Linked DNA regions of Homo sapiens. The protein of the gene in region 2 purifies or fractionates together with the protein of the main gene of each other region. This does not show direct contact. Each region holds a gene or a part of one and is shown on either strand. Other genes may lie near its edges.

Evidence for each region. Proteins that work in one complex are often made in the same cells at the same time.
Region 1: the proteins of MTMR9 (region 2) and CENPF purify together in Homo sapiens (co-immunoprecipitation; 2 studies listed by BioGRID and IntAct, with this or other methods). This does not show direct contact.

Annotation. Positions count from the first base shown.
Region 1 is NC_000001.11:214,606,168-214,613,207, reverse strand, and holds part of CENPF (centromere protein F), read right to left. Parts: intron 4,895-7,040; exon of another isoform or gene 4,005-4,894; intron 3,189-4,004; exon of another isoform or gene 1-3,188. UniProt on the Homo sapiens protein: Required for kinetochore function and chromosome segregation in mitosis. Required for kinetochore localization of dynein, LIS1, NDE1 and NDEL1.
Region 2 is NC_000008.11:11,322,816-11,328,646, reverse strand, and holds the end of MTMR9 (myotubularin-related protein 9), read right to left. Parts: 3' UTR 501-5,831; downstream 1-500. UniProt on the Homo sapiens protein: Acts as an adapter for myotubularin-related phosphatases. Increases lipid phosphatase MTMR6 catalytic activity, specifically towards phosphatidylinositol 3,5-bisphosphate and MTMR6 binding affinity for phosphorylated phosphatidylinositols.

The DNA of each region.
Region 1 (7,040 bases), on a different chromosome or scaffold from region 2:
CAGCCTTAAAATAGAATGTATCCTAAATGCCCAGAAGCACCCTGCCTTTGTAAGATTTGTAACAAAAATTAATATAAATAGGGTTAATAGTTGTAATGGAGTGGTGGACCAAAAAGCCATATCAGTGCTAGCAAAATGGCAGAATTCATGTAGCATCAAAGTTGTCCTACAAGAGCTTTGGTGCCTAATGATGTCTAAAGAAAATGTGACACTCCTTCAGCTGCCTGAAGGACAGGGTTACAGCAGTTAATCAAAAAGAAAAACCATAGGCCCTTCCCCTTCCTGCCCCCCATTCAATTTAAACAGTCTTCATCTTCCACAGTAGTAAATTTTCTAGATATGCCTTGTAGACCTCAAAGGACTAGAAAGGAAGCTCCCATTCAAAGGAAATTTATCTTAAGATACTGTAAATTATACTAATTTTTTGTCCATTTGAAATATGTTAGTTGCGCTGTAACAATCATCCTGCCATGTGTAACATCCTGTCCACATACTTGAATTTCTGGGATCAAGAAAGTATATTTAAATTGATTCCCATCATAACTGGTGGAGTACATCTAACTCAACTGTGAAAAGACATATCACATAATCACCTTGCTGCTGATTAAATGGCCTGGGGCCTCTGCCTTCTCCTGTGGGATTACTGTTGGGTGTACAGGGTACTTTGTCTGTACCCCTGGTTTCCAAAAAAATTAAGGAGGAGGGACGCCTCCTCAACTCATTCTATGAGGCCAGCATCATCCTGATACCAAAACCTGGCAGAGACCCAACAAAAAAAGAAAACTTCAAGCCAATATCCTTGATCAACGATGCAAAATTCCTCAAAAATATACTTGCAAACCAAGTCCAGCAACACATCAAAAAGCTAATCCACCATAATCAAGTAGGCTTCATCGCCAGGATTTACGGTTGGTTCAACATACGCAAATCAATAAATATGATTCATCACATAAGCATAACTAAAGACAAAAATGACATGATTATCTCATGCAGAAAAGCTTTCATTAAAAATTCAACATCCCTTCACGTTAAAAACTCTCAATAAATTAGGTATTGAAGGAACATACCTCAAAATAATAAGAGCCATCTATGACAAACCCACAGCCAACATCATACTGAATGGGCAAAAGCTGAAAGCATTCCCCCCTTGAAAACTGGCAAGGAGGCCCTCTTCCACTACTCCTATTCAACATACTATTGGAAGTCCTGGCCAGAGCAACCAGGCAAGAGGAAGAAATAAAAGGCATCCAAATAGGAAGAGAGGAAGTCAAACTACCCCTGTTTGCAGACAACATGATCCTACATCTAGAAAACCCCATAGTCTTGGCCCAAAAGCTCCTTCAGTTGATAAACAACTTCAGCCAACTCTCAGGATACGAAAATCAATATACAAAAATCACTAGCATTCCTATACACTGACAACAGCCAAGCCAAGATCCAAATCAAAAATGCAATCTCATTCACGATTGCCACAATATGAATAAATCACCTAGAAATACAGCTAACCAGGGAGGTGAAAGATCTGTACAATAAGAATTAGAAGGCTGGGCTCAGTGGCTCACGCCTGTAATCCCAGCACTTTGGGAGGCTGAGGCGGGCAGATCACCTGAGGTCAGGAGTTCAAGACCAGCCTGGCCAACATGGTGAAACCCCATCTCTACTAAAAATACAAAGATTAGCTGGGTGTGGTGGCAGACGCCTGTAATCCCAGCTACTCAGGAGGCTGAGACAGGAGAATCACTTGAACTTGGGAGGCAGAGGTTGCAGTGAGCTGAGATCGCACCACTGCACTCCATCCTGGGCAACAAAGAGCGAAACTCCATCTCAAAAAAAAAAAGAATTAGAAAACACTGCTCAAAGAAATCAGAGTGACACAAATGGAAAAACATCCCATGCTCATGAATATGAAGAATCAGTATCATTGAAATGGCCATACTGCCCAAAGCAATTTGCATATTCAATGCTATTCCTATCAAACTACCAAAGACATTGTTCACAGAACTAGAAAAAACTATTTTAAAATTGATATGGAACCAAAAATAAGCCCAAATAGCCAAGACAAGCCTAAGCAAAAAGAACAAAGCTGACAGCAACATGTTACCCTACTTCAAACTATACTACAGGGCTACAGTAACCAAAACAGCATGGTACTAGTACAAAATCAGACACATAGACCAATGGAACATAATAGAGAGCCCAGAAATAAGCCGCACACCTACAACCATCTGATCTTTGACAAAGCTGACAAAAACAAACAATGGGGAAAGGATTCCCTATTCAATAAATGATGAGATAGCTGGCTAGCCATATGCAGAAGAATGAAACTGGACCCCCTCCTTACACCATATACAAAAATTAATTCAAGATGGATTAAAGACTTAAATGTAAAACCCCAAACTATAAAAACCACAGAAGACAACCTAGGCAATACCATCCCGGACACAGGAATGGGCAAATATTTCATGACAAAGACACTAAGAGCAATCACAACAAAAGCAAAAATTGACAAATGAGATCTAATTAAACTGAAGAGCTTCTGCACAGCAAAAGAAACTCAACAGAGTAAAAAGACAACCTAAAGAATGGGAGAAAATATTTACAAACTATGCATCTGATAAAGGTCTAATATCCAGCATCTATAAGGAACTTAAATTTACAAGAGAAAAACAACAACCCCATTAAAAAGTAGGCAAAGGACATGAACACTTTTCTAAAAAAAAAAAAAAAATACATGTGGCTAACAAGCATATGAAAAAAAGCTCAATATCACTATCATTAGAGAAATGCAAATTAAAACCACAATGAAATACCATCTCACACCAGTCAGAATGGCTATGATTAAAAAGTTAAAAAATAACAGATGCTGGCCAAGTTGAGAAGGGAACACTTATACACTTTTGGTGGGAGTGCAAATTAGTTCAACCATTGTGGAAAGCAGTATGGCAATTCCTCAAAGAGCTAAAAACAGAACTACCATTCAACCCAGCAATCTCATTCCTGGGTATATACCCAGAGGAATATAAATCATTCAGCCATAAAGACACATGCATGGCCAGGCACAGTGGCTCATGCCTGTAATCCCAACACTTTGGGAGGCCAAGGCAGGTGGATAACTTGAGCTCAGGAGTTCGAGACCAGCCTGGGCAACATGGCAAAATCCCTTATCTACCAAAAAAAAAAAAAAAAAAGGCACATGCACACACAAATGTTCATTGCAGCACTGTTCACAATAGCAAAGACATGCAATCAATCTAAATGCCCATCAGTGACAGATTGGATAAACAAAATGTAGTACACATATACCATGGAATACTATGCAGCCATAAAAAAGAATGAGATCATGGTTTTTTGCAGGAACATGGATGGAATTAGAGGCCATTATCCTTAGCAAACTAATGCAAGAACAGAAAACCAAATGAACACAAAGAAGGGAACAACAGACACTGAGGCCTCCTTGAGGGTGGAGAGTTGGAGGAGGAAGAGCAGAAGAAAAAATAACTATTGAGTATTAGGCTTAGTACCTGGGCAACAAAATAATCTGTACAACAATCCCCCATGACATGAGTCTACCTGTAAAACAAACCTGCATGTGTACCCCTGAACCAAAAATAAAAGCTAAGAAAAAAATAATATTTTGCCATAAGGTTTTCAGGTGAAATAGGTCCTATAAACAAAGAAAATGCATGACAAGATATTCTGCATATGCTCCTCTTTCCCTCTTCACATGGTTAATTACCACTCACACTTTGTCCCTCTTCCTCTGGGAAACTTTTCTGAGATCCCTGACCCGGCCATAGTTTCCCATCATAGTTACTCACAGCACAGGTAGCCCATCTCCTTCCAAGCAGTTATCATTTTTTAATAATGAATGCATGCATGAATGAAGAGTGAATGCCGTATTAGTACTAGAATCACTGCAAAAGGTGGTAAAGTCATGCTCCAGACAGACACTGACCAGGAAAGACATATACAGTACAACCTTAGAGATTCAAAGCGGATTCTTCGGGGGGAGCTGCGGCGGTGGCGATGCAGGAGGCCGGCCGGGGCGCGGAGGGACCGACGGACGCACGGGCAGGCGGCCAGGCGCCATGGAGTGCGGCCCTGGGGCCCAGGGGCGCGGGCCGGGGTGGGCTTCCCACGGCGTGACATGGAGACCTGTGGTTGCGAGGCTCCCTGGGGCTCGGCTTGGACCGCGATGGGGCTGGGCCCTGGCCTCCTAACGGGGCTGCCGTCTGGGGCCGTAGCTGGGGGGGCGCCCTCCCCCCTGCCCGCGACTCGGAGCACCCCCACCCCTCCCCTGCCGGGCCAGGCCGGGCGGCGTTGTTGGCTGGGGCCCCGGTGGGGGCCTGGCCCGGGCGGCGCCCGCCATGAACGGGCTGTCGCTGAGTGAGCTCTGCTGCCTCTTCTGCTGCCCGCCCTGCCCCGGCCGCATCGCTGCCAAGCTCGCCTTCCTGCCGCCGGAGGCCACCTATTCCTTGGTGACTGAGCCCGAGCCGGGGCCTGGTGGGGCCGGGGCCGCCCCCTTGGGGACCCTGCGGGCCTCCTCGGGCGCACCCGGGCGCTGGAAGCTGCACCTGACGGAGCGCGCCGACTTCCAGTACAGCCAGCGCGAGCTGGACACCATTGAGGTCTTCCCCACCAAGAGCGCCCGCCGCAACCGCGTCTCCTGCATGTATGTTCGCTGCGTGACTGGTGCCAGGTACACGGTCCTCTTCTCGCACAGCAATGCCGTGGACCTGGGCCAGATGAGCAGCTTCTACATTGGCCTGGGCTCCCGCCTCCATTGCAACATCTTCTCCTACGACTACTCCGGCTACGGTGCCAGCTCGGGTAGGCCTTCCGAGAGGAACCTCTATGCCGACATCGACGCCGCCTGGCAGGCCCTGCGCACCAGGTGAGGGCAACCCTGGGGGCAGCTCAGCCTGGGCACACCCAAGAGGGGACCAGGCCGGGGGCCGGGGGGCGGGCTTCCCTGGGAGGAAGGTGGGCGGCTCTGCAGGAGGGGAGCCACAGTGGATGCACAGGGCCAGAGAGCCGGACAGGCGAGCTTGGGTGTGCAGGTGCAGCCTCCACATGGCTGAGGTGTGGCCAGGCGGTCCTTCCACACCCTGGCCTGTGGAGCCAGGCTCCCTGGGAACCCCTGGCCTGAGGACGGGAAGGGGCTGAGCTTGTCACAGGGGCGTGGATGCCACCCGGCGGGAGGGAGTGGGTGGTGTCTGGGGGTCTGTGCACGTGTGGCTGGGGCCCCATCGGCCGAGGCAGCACTTGGGGCCAAGTGAGGCGAGGCTGCTGCATCCAGGTCCCGAGGCCTGGCCCATGAGGCCCTGTGGCTGCGGAGCTTGGCCATCCTGGGGCAGGGCCTGCAGGGTCAGGTGCAGACCCCCAGCACACATCCAAGGTCTGGGCCAGCCTCCATTCCAGATCCAGCCCTCCTAGTCATCCAGGTCCCCAGCCCTGCGCTTGCCTGGGGCCTTCACTGGTGTTTGAGCACCGCCCGGGCCAGTGCTGCTTTGGATGAGGAGACCCGGGTGGGCCTCTGGTGACCTTTCCTGCTCGCCATCCACTGGGGCTGTCTCGTCCTGGCCCTGCCCAGCCCACTGGTCTGACCTGCTCCCGCAGGGACCAGGCATAGCTCTGAGAAGTCAGAGGCCCTGGGGAGGTGGGGTCCTCGTTGCCTTGGTGATATTGCAGGCAGTCCCTGCTGTGGGCCTGGGAGCTGGTCCCCTGGCACCACCCTGGCTCCAGGGGCCTCCCAGCAGTGTGGGGCGCTGACACCAACCACTTCATGCGACTTCCTCGGCCCCTCCTGTCTCTACTGCCTGGGCCACTGGCAGAGTCACACCCGCCATGGCCAGCTCTGAGCTCTGTCTGCTCGGCCATCTGTCCTGCTGCCACTTTGTCCTGCAGGAACCTAGGCCCAGAGCTGTGAGGGGGAGGCCAGAGCATGCCCAGGGCCTCCACTGGGGATGTGTCCTGTTCGTTTGAGTGGTGACATCCAGGTGGCAGCTGGGGGCTCCTGCCTGGTAGCAGGTGACAGGGCTGGGCTGGCTCAGCACACTACTGACCATGGCTGCCAGGGAGCAGGCCAGGGAGGCTAAGGCAGAGCTGGGGCCACAGGCACAAGCCAGGCAGCATCCTTTGGGGCATGGGTGAGTGGCGAGCTGTGGAGTGCTGCCAGGAGGCTGGGATTCCAGGCCAGGGAGGGGGACAGCCCTGCTGGTGGAGTCCGAATGCCAGGCAGAGGGGACGCACACCTGCCCATGCTCCTGCCTTGCAAGAGGGCATCTGCCTGGGATCAGAGCCTGGAGCGTGTGGGAGGAGAGTTGTGGGGTCCCGGCATGGGCAGGGTGGCAGGTGGGTCCCGCGTGGTTGGGACTGGGCACGAGGAGGCCTTGTAACTGGTGCTGGATCAGCTGGGTCACGGGCTGCACACCAGTGACCTGGGGGTGGGGGTGGCCCTGGGTGGGAGCTGGTGATGCTGAGGTGGCCGAGGACTTGTCCACTCCCAAGGGAAGGTGCTGGTGGGAGGGGGTGCCACCTCCGCAGCCACGACCCTCGATGCTGACCTGGGTTGCACTGGCATCTCATTGGGCGTGGGGACTCCGAGAGTCCAAAATTGGGTGGAGACATTTGGGGACACAGCTGCCTGAATTCCTCATGGCCAAGGGGGTGGGCAAGGGCTGCAGGGAGGAAGAGTGTCCGCTGTCCTGGCCAGTGCACCAGGAACGGCTTTCTAACCCGGGCAGGAAGGCGTGAAGCATTCAGGATGTGGGGGGCACACAGTTCCCAGTGTGCACCTAGGGGTGATCAGGAGGAGAGGCGCCAGGGCCTCCCCTACCTCCGCCCCAGGGCCACTCCGTAGGCGGGATCCCTACAGATCCTAGCTAGGAAACGCCAGGGAACGGCAGCGCCAGGGAACGGGGTGGGGCCGCTGGCTTCGCCCACCGCCGCGGTGTTGAGGGCTGGGGGTGGCCCTCGGGACTGGTGTGGAGCCTGGGCCTGACCCACTGACTTGGCTGAGTGGGGAGACTGGAGGGTCG
Region 2 (5,831 bases):
GGCATTGCCTAAGTCAATGATTACTGTAATAATATGCCAAATAGTGGCTTTTTAATTCCATTTTCTTTCTACATTTAATAGCTGGCATTCTACTCTAAGAAAGAGCTTTCCTTTTACCCTCAATGAGTCATGTGTTTATATTAATACATACTAAATCAATAATATGTAGAATACATATTCCTAATTCTTGGGAGATTCCTGTGAAGTATTTAGAAGACAGGGTCACAATGTCTGCAGCTAACTCGGATGTTTCAGCAAAATAACAGTGTAACAAACACACACACACACACACACACACACACGTGGTATTAAAGCAAATATGGAAAATTTTACCAATCATTCAATATAGGAACAATCTAGGGAGATCAGTGTACTATTTTGCAGCCTTTTTGCAGATCTCAATTTTTTCAAAATGTAAGGTAAAAAATATATAGATTTAATTGAAACACCATCCAAACCTTCACCAATATTTGAAAAAAAAATTCAAATAAGCCCACAGATTTAATTTATTAGCACTTAAATATATTCAGATTTTATTACCATCGTCTATAGAAATTTAACACTAGCCATCTGTGCAACTGTCCTCTGAGGCAGAGGAACACCATACGCAAATATTACACACTAAGAACAGTACCACATTCGACAAGACTCTTTCTTGATTCAGTAAACCAAGCTTGACAAACCGGCCAACCCAAGGTGAATGATTACAGTTATAGGGTACAGGGGAAATTATCACCTAGTGAATATTACAAACAATATTAAAATGTTACACAGACTTACAAAAGTTCTGCTTTTTTTTTTCCCTAAGACTGTATGTATATGTGTGTGTGCGTACACAGGTTCACAATATGGAAACCTGTACCTTACAGCACTCTTGAGGTTTCAGCAAAGCATACATTATAGACATATTTGCCATACAGTGCAATTTTATTGTATAAGCCATGAATAATAGTGCACTTAAATCCAAGAGTCACATTCAAATATTATCAAGAGAACAATCCAAATACCCGGCTATTGAAGAAATACACATTCTTTGTTTTTATAAACTAAGTTCTGCAACTACAACATTTTTTTGTGTAGATGGTATTAGATCAGTAAGGTTTTAAACAATGAGATTTAGGGTGCATTTTGTAGAATAATTCACCTCTCCAAAGATAACGTGCATTTTAAAAGTGAAGCAAATGTCTTGGCCAGACAAACACAGGCAGTGTTGTACAACTCAGTTTTATTACAAATCACAAATATAGTTAATCCTTAGACCTGCAGACGGTTAAAGAGAATGGCTCTAGAAGTCAGTAAACTCTCATCAGAATTACTTTGCAGGACAATGTAGTGTTTACAGTGAGCCTCATTATCTTCCACTAAATTGGGCACAAATTACTGTTCCACAGTGTAGTTCAAGAGCTGGAACATTAAGTTTCTTAAAAAGGATTTAGATAACAGGTTCAGGCATTTTAATATCCAGTCCTAGAATTTCAGAGGGTCTCTTCTGGGACTATTGGTTTAAAGGAAGATGCTGTGGACAGTGGATTATAAAGACCAAATGAAGGTAGAAGTAATTTTATTCAAGAAAATAAAGAAAACTGATACCATAAGAAAGTTATAGTATCAGTATATATTTTATCATCTGAGAATAAATGTAAATGGATAAATGAGTCTTTTTTTTTTTTTTTTTTTGAGATGGAGTCTTGCCCTTTCGCCCAGGCTGGAGTGCAGTGGTGCGATCTCGGCTCACTGCAAGCTCTGCCTCCCGGGTTCACACCATTCTCCTGCCTCAGCCTCCTGAGTAGCTGGGACTACAGGCGCCCGCCACCACACCTGGCTAATTTTTTGTATTTTTAGTAGACATGGGTTTTCACCGTGTTAGCCAGGATGGTCTCGATCTCCTGACCTCATGATCCGCCCGCCTTGGCCTCCCAAAGTGCTGGGATTACAGGCGTAAGCCACCATGCCCAGCCTATAATGTTTTTAAAGATGATGGGTAACATAAAAATACTATGTGGTAATAACTTAGAATACTAGGTCTGGAGGAGGAGAACAGGCCTAGCCCATGTGAAAGAATAAGCAGTAGCTAATCTATGTGGTCTTGAGGTATAGTATAAACCTGGAAAGTTCTCTGAACCTCTTCAGTTCTGAGGGTTGCCCAATTAAAACAACAACAACAACAACAACAACAAAACTTTATCAGATGTACTGAATGACTTCATTCTCTGATAAATTTCAAAGCTTCCAGAACAGAGGATCAACTATTGTAACTATTGCCCATTTCTGGTCCAGGAAATACCTTTCTGATAAAGAGTGCTCATAAAACGCTTGTGTTGTTTTCATTCATTCTATCTAGAAGTGGGCAAATACCAAAACCTTTATCCCAGATTAAGGTCGGATAATAAGTGAACCTGATGACCTACTTTAGAATGACAATTCAAACAGCTATCCCTGAAACCAGACAACTACACGAGTTATGCCTTGAAGCAGATCTTTCAAAGTGCAACGAAACATTACTCCTGTTTTTCACTTGAGGAGACTAAATTATGGTCATATCTTTTCCATGATACTGATTTTTTATTTAACATAAACCAAATACTGACTGAATCAAAGACTAAAACCCCACAAAATTTCATCCTTTAAAACAAAAAGCAATAAAATCCCACCCCTAAATCAGGCCTCAAAGTTCAAAGAAATGTTTAAAAATCCCCCATATGGGATCTGACATGAATGTCTATTATTGTCCCCCCCAAGTCTTCTCAAAAATCACTTTAAAATCTTGCTTTGAGACCCTAAGTTTTCTTGGAAATAAAATACATTTATAGATTGTTTTAAACCTACTGAATTTTACTATTTCTGCTTGCTTTCTTCCCATTTAATAAAATCAAAATAAAAAATTTTGACCAAATAAATATTTATTGAAAGGTCCTGCCACCAAAAAAGCTTCAGGTTTTTAAAAACATATAATCAAACAACAATGTTCTTCTGATTAAAAAAAAAAAAAGTACTTATTTAAATCTGAGGATCCTTATATGTTCAATAGAGGATTGTGGTGATCCTTTGTATTTTAAAAATATTATTTGTGGGGCCTACTTTACGTATCTCCTGTATAAAAACCAGCTTTCACTCCACATGAATAGAGAAGATGCTGAATACGCAGGAATCTGATTATCCCTCACGTGATTATTACCGGCCCCTCTGGGGCAATCTGCTTGCTCACTCATTCTGCCACCATTCTCTTCATTCAAGTGTTTAACAGCACATTTATCAAAGGCAGCTCTCCGATGCAATGTTTAACGAGTGTCTTCTCAGGAGTGTATCCGTGTCATTTATTCTTCTCATCCAGGTAAGCACGAACTTCACAGTACTACTAAAAATCTTCTTCAAATTATATTGATAATGGACTTATTTCTGACCGTTTTTGGATTTGGGAAAACTCTAATATTTGGATTACCAAATAACACTTCTGTAGATGCACTGATACCGAAGTTTATTTTTACAACCTGTAAACAGATCTGAAGTTTGAACAATCCCTAATTATAAATTAATACTAAAATGCAAACTTGCCAAAACAGTATAGATTGTTGTCTCAGTGAGACAGAGAAAACGAAATGCGAATACCGTGTTATGACTGTACTCTGGCTCGCACAGCAAATGTGCATCAGGAAGATGGGTCTACCTTGATGGTACATCATCCCTCCATGACCAGACCTAATACAAACTCCCTCACAAGTTTCCACCCATGGAAGCCCTATGGCCGATCAACAGAAGCAGTGGGAGTCACTTCTGGCTTTTTCTTTACTTAGACACAGGGTCTCGCTCTGTTGCTCAGGCTGGAGTGGACTGATGCGATCATAGCTCACTGCAGCCTCAACCTCCTAGGCTCAAGGGATCCTTCTGCCTCAGCTTTCCTAGTGGCTGGGACTATAGGCACACACCACCACACCAGGCTAATGGGAGTCACTTCTAAAGAAAACTCTCTAGATGGTTTTCCTTATATGCCTGTTAGCTGAGAAGAAAAGCCTCCTTCATATACAATCTTGAGACAAAAAGAGAAGAAAACAAAAAGCTCAGCTGTATTAACAGACATAGCAAGCAATTCTGAGGGAGCACAAAAAAGTGAGGCTGTTTCCTTTTTTTTTTTTTTTTTTTAACAAAACTAAGATGGACATTTCACACAACGCAGAGCTACGAGAACATCTCTTATGCTCCTTGCCATGGGATTTTAATGCCCCAAGGTTCATAACTACAGCAAAGAAAGTAAGTCAAAAATAAACTGAGCTTAAAGAAGGTGGCAGGCCAATTTTCCCAAAAAGACTGTGGACTGTGGGCTGCTGTGTAGCCTTTGCTACAAGGCTGAGGAAGCAGAAGAAAGATGAATTGGGCAATTGGTGATGAAAAGTATTTGCCATTTTCAAAGGCTTCTCAGTGTGGCCATAGATTTTGCTAGTCAATTTTTAAAAAATTATATTTTTAGCTCAACACACAGCTCTAAAGCAGGGTTCAGTGTAGTGTGTTCTCTACCGAAATGGTTATATACAGATGGTATGGAAATGGTTTTAAAGATTACTCATAAACTATCCTTTTAAAGAAAAACTAGACTCGGTCATATTTGTTAAAATGAGCAATGTCACCAAACAGAAATGTAGGTGGGAAATACTGAACCACAAACATTTGGAGTTGCAGGCATAGACTAGCAGAGCATGAATAGTCATCACTGTTTCTATAATACTGAAACACTCAAATCTGTTTCTGAGGTTTAAAACACAGAGCTATATTATATTCATAAACTTCCCCCTCCACTTAAGTTATATTTGCCTAACACATAATGGACAAATCAATAGAGCCAAAGCAAATTTGCAAAAGGCTCAGGTCAACATGAAAATTTTAACCTTAGTATTAGGAAACTCTTAGAATACTTACAAATTAAAAAAACACACAATAAAACACACATACACATATAAACCAGTGCAATAAGAACTTTAGACAAGGGCAGTGCATCTCTGGTTTAAGAAAACCTATTTGTAGCTTGATTATAATAAATTAACTCTATTCTAGATGATGGTTTAATTTTACAAGCAGCATTTGAAACACATTGTATATGTATGCTCAAAACCTGAAAACCAATTCACCAGTAACAATTCTCAATCAGTAACAAATTCCTACTTTAATTGTATATTGCACATACTTTTAGTGTCTACGTTAAAATAAATTTAACTCTTCTTAATGTAAATATCGGAGGACCATACCTGTTGCCCTTGTAGAAATAATTTACCTTGAATAACAGATTTTCCTTTCTTGACAAACAAGAATGAGAATAGATTTCAGCTTCGTTAGTCCAAAACTATTTTAAAGAAAATGGCTATTTTATGTGGCGAAGACACTGGAAATGGATTGTTAAACACAAAATCCTTGGTTTATCCATTGTTGCCATTTTGAAAAACATTTCTATGGTCAGAGTGTTTAAAAGTCTGACCCTTTTTTTAAACCACCAAATAGTCCCTAGAGAGATTAGCTGTCTCCTTGACTGCTCTAGAATGCTGTTTGGAGAGTGGACACAGAGAAAAAGCTTTGGATAAAATGGCATGAAACACAAATGGCATTAAATAGGTCATCTATTTCACGTAAAAATAAAATGACTAGCACCTCCTTCCGGCTCCCAAAGTGACAGGCCCTAACAGGCCACATGAAACATGGTTTATGATAGTAAGTTTCATTATTCATACAGTATTGAGAAATCCATTACATTAGGGGGGTCCCACATCTAAAGCCTTCACTTCAAGGCTACCGTGTAAAAGTGAACTGAAGGGCACAAGGAGAGAACGGCGGACACAGGCCCAAGAAGG